2 separate regions of the Homo sapiens genome follow, and region 2 is linked to region 1. Evidence: fine-mapped expression QTL. Tissue or cell type: whole blood. Region 1 holds a variant in brackets; the other region holds the start of a gene. All regions are shown on one strand. Distances are from middle to middle.

Region 1 (2,683 bases):
AAAAAGGTACTTTTTCTTTTGCAACCCCGTACGCTATACATATAACTGAAATAGGTCTATGAAACACTGCTTCTGGCCAGGCATGGTGGCTCACACCTGTAATCCCAACGCTTTGGGAGGCTAAGGCAGGAGGATCACTTGAGTCCAGGAGTTCAAGACCAGTCTGACAACATAGCAAAACCCTGTCTCTATAAAAAAAATTATAAAAATTATTTTTTAAAGAAGAAGTACTGTGTCTTTTACTACATGTAGGGTACTCTGATATTTTGTGCCTCATTTAAAGAAAATGTTGGCTGGGCACAGTAGCTCACACCTGTAATCCTAGCACTTTGGGAAGCAGAGGTGGGTAGGATTGCTTGAGCTCAGGAGTTTGAGACCAGCCCGGGCAACATAGCAAGACTTGTCTCTACTAAAAATCAAACAATCAGCCAGGTGTGGTGGTGCATGCCTATAGTCCCAGCTACTTGGGATGCTGAGGTAGGAGGATCACTTAAGCCTGGAAGATTAAGGCTGCAGTGAACTATGATCACCGCACTCCAGCCCGGGAAACAGAGCAAGATCCTATCTCAAAAAAAGAAAAAGTTGACATTAGCCCAATAATGGGTTGCAACTTAGAGTTTCTTTTTTTTTTAAACTATATTAGGAGAATATTTAAAAATATTTTCTCATTTTATTAAACATTTACTTCAAAAATTTGAATCATTAAGTCACTTTTGTTTAATTTGTATAAAATTTAATGTTTTTACCTTCCTATTAGCTTTCTGAGAAAATCCAGAGGCAAACTTTTAAAATAACTTTTTATTTAATTAATTTACTTATTTAGAGACGGGGTCTCATTCTGTCACCCAGGCTGGAGTGCAGTGGCATAATCACAGCTACTACAGCCTCGATCTCCTGGGCTCAAGCCGTCCTCCTACCTTTGCCTCCTGAGTAGCTGGAACTACAGGCACACACCAGTACACCTGGCTAATTTTTTTTTATGTTTTGTAGAGACAGGGTCTTGCTACGTTGCCCGGACTGGTCTCAAACTCCTGACCTCAAGTGATTTTCCCGACTCAGCCTCCCAAAGCACTGGGATTGCAGATGTGAGAAACC[G/A]TGCCCAGTCAATTTTTATTTTAAAATAAGTGATGCATATGGGATTTAAAGTTTTAAAAAGTCAAGTAGTTTATAGTAAAAGGTTTATAATAAAAGAATAGCAGTTGTTTTTACTTCAACATCCCAGATTTCTGCTGTTTAGGGCACCTACTTTCAATCTCTACATATTGCTTTCATGTTTCTAAACTACCTTGCTTTGACCACTATTTTTTGAGTTATGGGTATCAGGCATCATATGCTAATTTCTTACCATGGTGACAAAAGTTTAGAATGCCCCTCCCCAACCCCCTTTATCTCCAACCTCTTGACAGTTCTATCATGTTTTTGTTTAGGTTTTTGTTTTTGAGGCAGGATCTTGCTGTGTTGCCCAGGCTGGTCGTGAACTCCCGGGCTCAATCAGTCCTCCCACCTCAGCATTGGGAGTAGCTAGGACTACATGCTTGCACACCTGTGTCTGGCCTATTATGATGTTTTCTGAGTCCAGTATCAATACTAAGAATATTATGACCACACATTGCTAGTAGCACACCATCATCCCTGTACCTTGTTTCTTGAACAACACAGTTGTGCAAGCTTTCTGGGTAGCTCTGGCTCATTTTCTCCCAAATATTCCAACATCTCATATGCCAGTCGTGTATAGTTCTGTGTTCAAGCACAGTCTGTCTTTTCAGAGTCCTTTATGCTGCTGTTCCAGTTGGGGCAGGTGGCTCTCCTGGGCCTTTGTGCAGCTGTCATCTTGACTCTTCACTTTGTCACCATTTTCCCGTGGTGAGACCCATGGCTTCCCAGTCTCCTGGCCGTCCTGGGTAGGAGAGGGAACTGAAGGCTTTAACTACTCTATACTCAGACTTTGAACCAATCCCTGAGTTTTCACTCTCCCACAACATAATTTGTAGTTTCCTCCCTCTAGCCAAGTCATCCAGCCCCTTTCCCCTCTCTTCCAAAATGAGTTGAGACTCCTCATCTCTCATTGCCTTTTCTTTCTAAGACAGTGGCCTTTACTGTCGTTTTCATAGTGTTTGGGGAAGAAGTCTGCCTTGTTCAGCTGCAGAAAGCAAACGAGAATTTTTCATGAATGATGGCTGCTGGTGCATTAGGTTACCACTGGCTTTGATGAATTCTCCCACTCATGAGGTTTTGACTGTTTTAGATTTTATCCTGTCTGTGTATCCCTCTGCACATTTGTTCTGTTAATACTGGGCTGAAAAAAAATACATATTAAAAAATACGTATTTTTACATATATACATAAATATACATATAATTATTAAAATTTTTTTCTATTTATTTTGCCATTAGGCACTTTTTTTTTTTTTTTTTGAGATGGAGTCTCACTGTGTCGCCCAGGCTGGAGTGCAGTGACACGAGCTCGGCTCACTGCAACCTCTACCTCCCAGGTCCAAGTGATTCTTGTGCCTCAGCCTCCTGAGTATCTGGGATCACACCTAGCTAACTTTTGTATTTTTAATAGAGATGGGATTTCACTGTGTTGGACAGGCTGGTCTCAAACTGCTGACCTCAACCCATTTGCCTGCCTCAGCCTCCCAAAGTGCTGGGGTTACAGGCATGAGCCACTGCGCCCAGTCCAT
Region 2 (2,683 bases), 28 kb before region 1:
ACCCCAGCCTGGGCAACAGAGCGAGACTCTGTCTCAAAAAATAAAATAAAATAAAAATTTACGTTTGTAATGGTTAAATATGGAGTGGTTATAACTGTTTGGCTGTATATGTAAGGTAGGATTTCTTTCTGTTTTTCTTTTTTTCTTTTGAGACATGTTGTCGCTCTGTCGCCCAGGCTGGAATGCAGTGGCACGATCACAGATCACTGCAGCCTCAACCTCCCGCGCCCAAGCAATCCTCCCACCTCAGTCTCCCAAGTAGCCGGGACAACAGGTGCAGGCCACCATGCCTGGCTAATTTTCTTGTTGTTGTTGTTGTTTGAGACAAAGTGTCACTCTTTCGCCCAGGCTGGAGTACAGTGGTATGATCTCGGCTCGCTACAACCTCTGCCTCCTAAGTTCAAGTGATCCTCTTAGCTCAGCCTCCCAAGTAGCTGGGATTACAGGTGGGCGCCATCTCAAACAACAACAAAAAAATACACTTCCTTGATTAACTCCTTTCTTCGAATTCCCATTAGGACCTCTCTTCGGGCACTGACTGATGAACTTCTACCGCCTCATCTTCTCTGCTAGACTTAGAGTTCCTGAGAGCAGAATAAATGCGGCTTGATCAGTATTTGCCGATTCAACGCAGAGGTGCCCAGGTCATCTCGGCGAGTTGAGCTGTCTAAGACCCCGCGATCGCGCAGGACAGGACCCAGAAGCCAGAGCGCAGGAACTGCTTCCGGCCGGCTCCCGGCTTCCGTCGGGCCCCGCGCCCGCGCTGCATGCTGGGATCTTCAGGTCGGAGGCCGGGGTGAGGCCGACCCACAGGCCGCCTTGCTCCCTCGCGAAGACGCTTATGCCAGTCTCGCCCGTCCCCGCTCCTCCTCAGAGAAAATGCTGCCCCGCAGCACTTACCGGAGCGACCATGAGGGTGACGATTTGAAGCACACACAGGCTTCCCGCCACCTCCTTTAAACCGCCGCTGGCTTGCCAGGGACAGACGGCGCGGTTGGCTCCCCAAAATTCCGACTGATACGCGCCTCGGCGAGCGAAAGCAAACGCGGGATACTCTCGCGTTCCTGATTGGCTGGTTGTGGACACCTCAATTATGACAGAAAGGGGCCGGGCGGGAAAGTTAGCTGTGGCCGGCGGGGATTGGCAGAAGGAACCTGTACTTACTCGTTTTTCCCGGACGTTGGCTGGTGGAGAAGAGAGGGTGGGGAGATGGGGCGCTGGGGGGGGGCGGTGGCGACGCAACTCGTGATTGGCGGATGTGCGTTCCTTAGGTCTCTACGGATTGCGGTTGCTTGGCGTTGATTGGGCAGTCGCGGGAAAACTAAAGTGGGCGGGGGGCCTTTGGGCCCGCCCCGCCGCCGGGGCCTGCTGGCGGAAGGGGAAATGGGGTGGGTGGGGGGTGGGGCAGGCGACGGTGGGGAAGATGGCGTACCAGAGCTTGCGGCTGGAGTACCTGCAGATCCCACCGGTCAGCCGCGCCTACACCACTGCCTGCGTCCTCACCACCGCCGCCGTGGTGAGCAGCTGCAGTGCCACCTTCTCATTATCTGGGCTGGATATGACTGGGTCTTCAGGAAACTGGGGTTTGGGCCTCGGGGAGGCCCAGAGGGGCTGGTCCCGGGGATGGGTGGAGGCGTACAGGGATTACTCTGGGGTTCGAGTTGGCGCCAAGAATGCTTATCCAGTGACGCGAGAAGGGAGTGCTGCTTCATGGGGGGTCAGGTCAGTTTCTAAGAGATGAGCGCCGGACCTATAGCGGGTTAGGGTTGCGGGAGCCTCCCACCCAAGAAATGTGTCCGAGAGCTCTGCCAATGGCCAGGTGGTACCATGGTGACTAGTGAGAGGAAGGTCCGTTTAGTGAAGAAACAGGAATGGGGAAAGCAAGCTGGAAACTGTCGAGAGGGGAATGGCTTATAATAAAAAGGGTCTCTGGATCTAAATAAGGGGCTAGCTGGAGGTACCCAGCCCTAACGGTGGCAGGGTCTCCAGTCTCCGTTATTTCAAGTGAGTTTTGTTGTTTCATACAGCTGTTTCAGGTGGTGCCCATGTGGTGGGTAGATTCATAGCAGCTGTTTTTATTTGTCCTGTGTCTAAAATATCACCACCTGTCTGCCTCATTTCTTCATGTCAGCCTCAACTATTGCAACATAAAACAGACTTTTTTGTGTTAGGTATTGAGGATACAAAGAATTCTACCAATCCTAGAGAATTCTTTACCAACCTCTTCCTCTGGCCTAAGAAGAAAGGCTTAAAGGAAATCACGTCTAAGTGACCGAGAGTTGGAAATTGCTAGACCTACTAATTCTTTGTTGTAAATGATGAAATTTTGTTTCTTGATTTGCTTTAAGAAGCTCTTTTTCTATTTCAGCAGTTGGAATTGATCACACCTTTTCAGTTGTACTTCAATCCTGAATTAATCTTTAAACACTTTCAAGTAAGTGGTTCATCACAATAGTGATTAATGCTTCAGTTTCTTCTTTTTCTTACTGTTTAGTAGCAAATCCTGTTATACACTATCCTAAAAAAGAACCCAGTGGGGACCTTTGATTATAAGTTGCCTTGTCAGGATATAAAGCAGTGATTCTGCAGCCTGGTTGGACTTGAGAATCCCTTAGGGAACTTTGAAGAGATTCTCAAGCTCCTCAACAAGTACCAAATCAGAATTTGCAAGGGTAGGAATTAA

The links. PIP is the estimated chance that this variant, and not a neighbour inherited with it, causes the effect.
Region 2: MIS12 starts here. The variant in region 1 is fine-mapped to the expression of MIS12 in whole blood (GTEx, PIP above 0.99).

The regions. Positions count from the first base shown.
Region 1 is chr17:5,457,338-5,460,020 of GRCh38, reverse strand. All of the region lies in intron 4 of DHX33 (DEAH-box helicase 33), which reads left to right. Among named protein-coding and RNA genes, the nearest start is that of DHX33, 10 kb to the left of the region's middle. The variant G/A (reference allele first, on the strand shown) is at 1,096.
Region 2 is chr17:5,484,902-5,487,584 of GRCh38, reverse strand. MIS12 (MIS12 kinetochore complex component) reads right to left here and starts at 1,019. Exons shown (of 3, transcript NM_001258217.2): 1 at 901-1,019. It overlaps DERL2 (derlin 2), which reads left to right and starts at 1,407. Exons shown (of 7, transcript NM_016041.5): 1 at 1,407-1,516; 2 at 2,369-2,434. The coding sequence starts at 1,424. RefSeq lists enhancers at 400-509, 750-849, 1,470-1,529, 1,570-1,749 and silencers at 1,023-1,190, 1,140-1,299.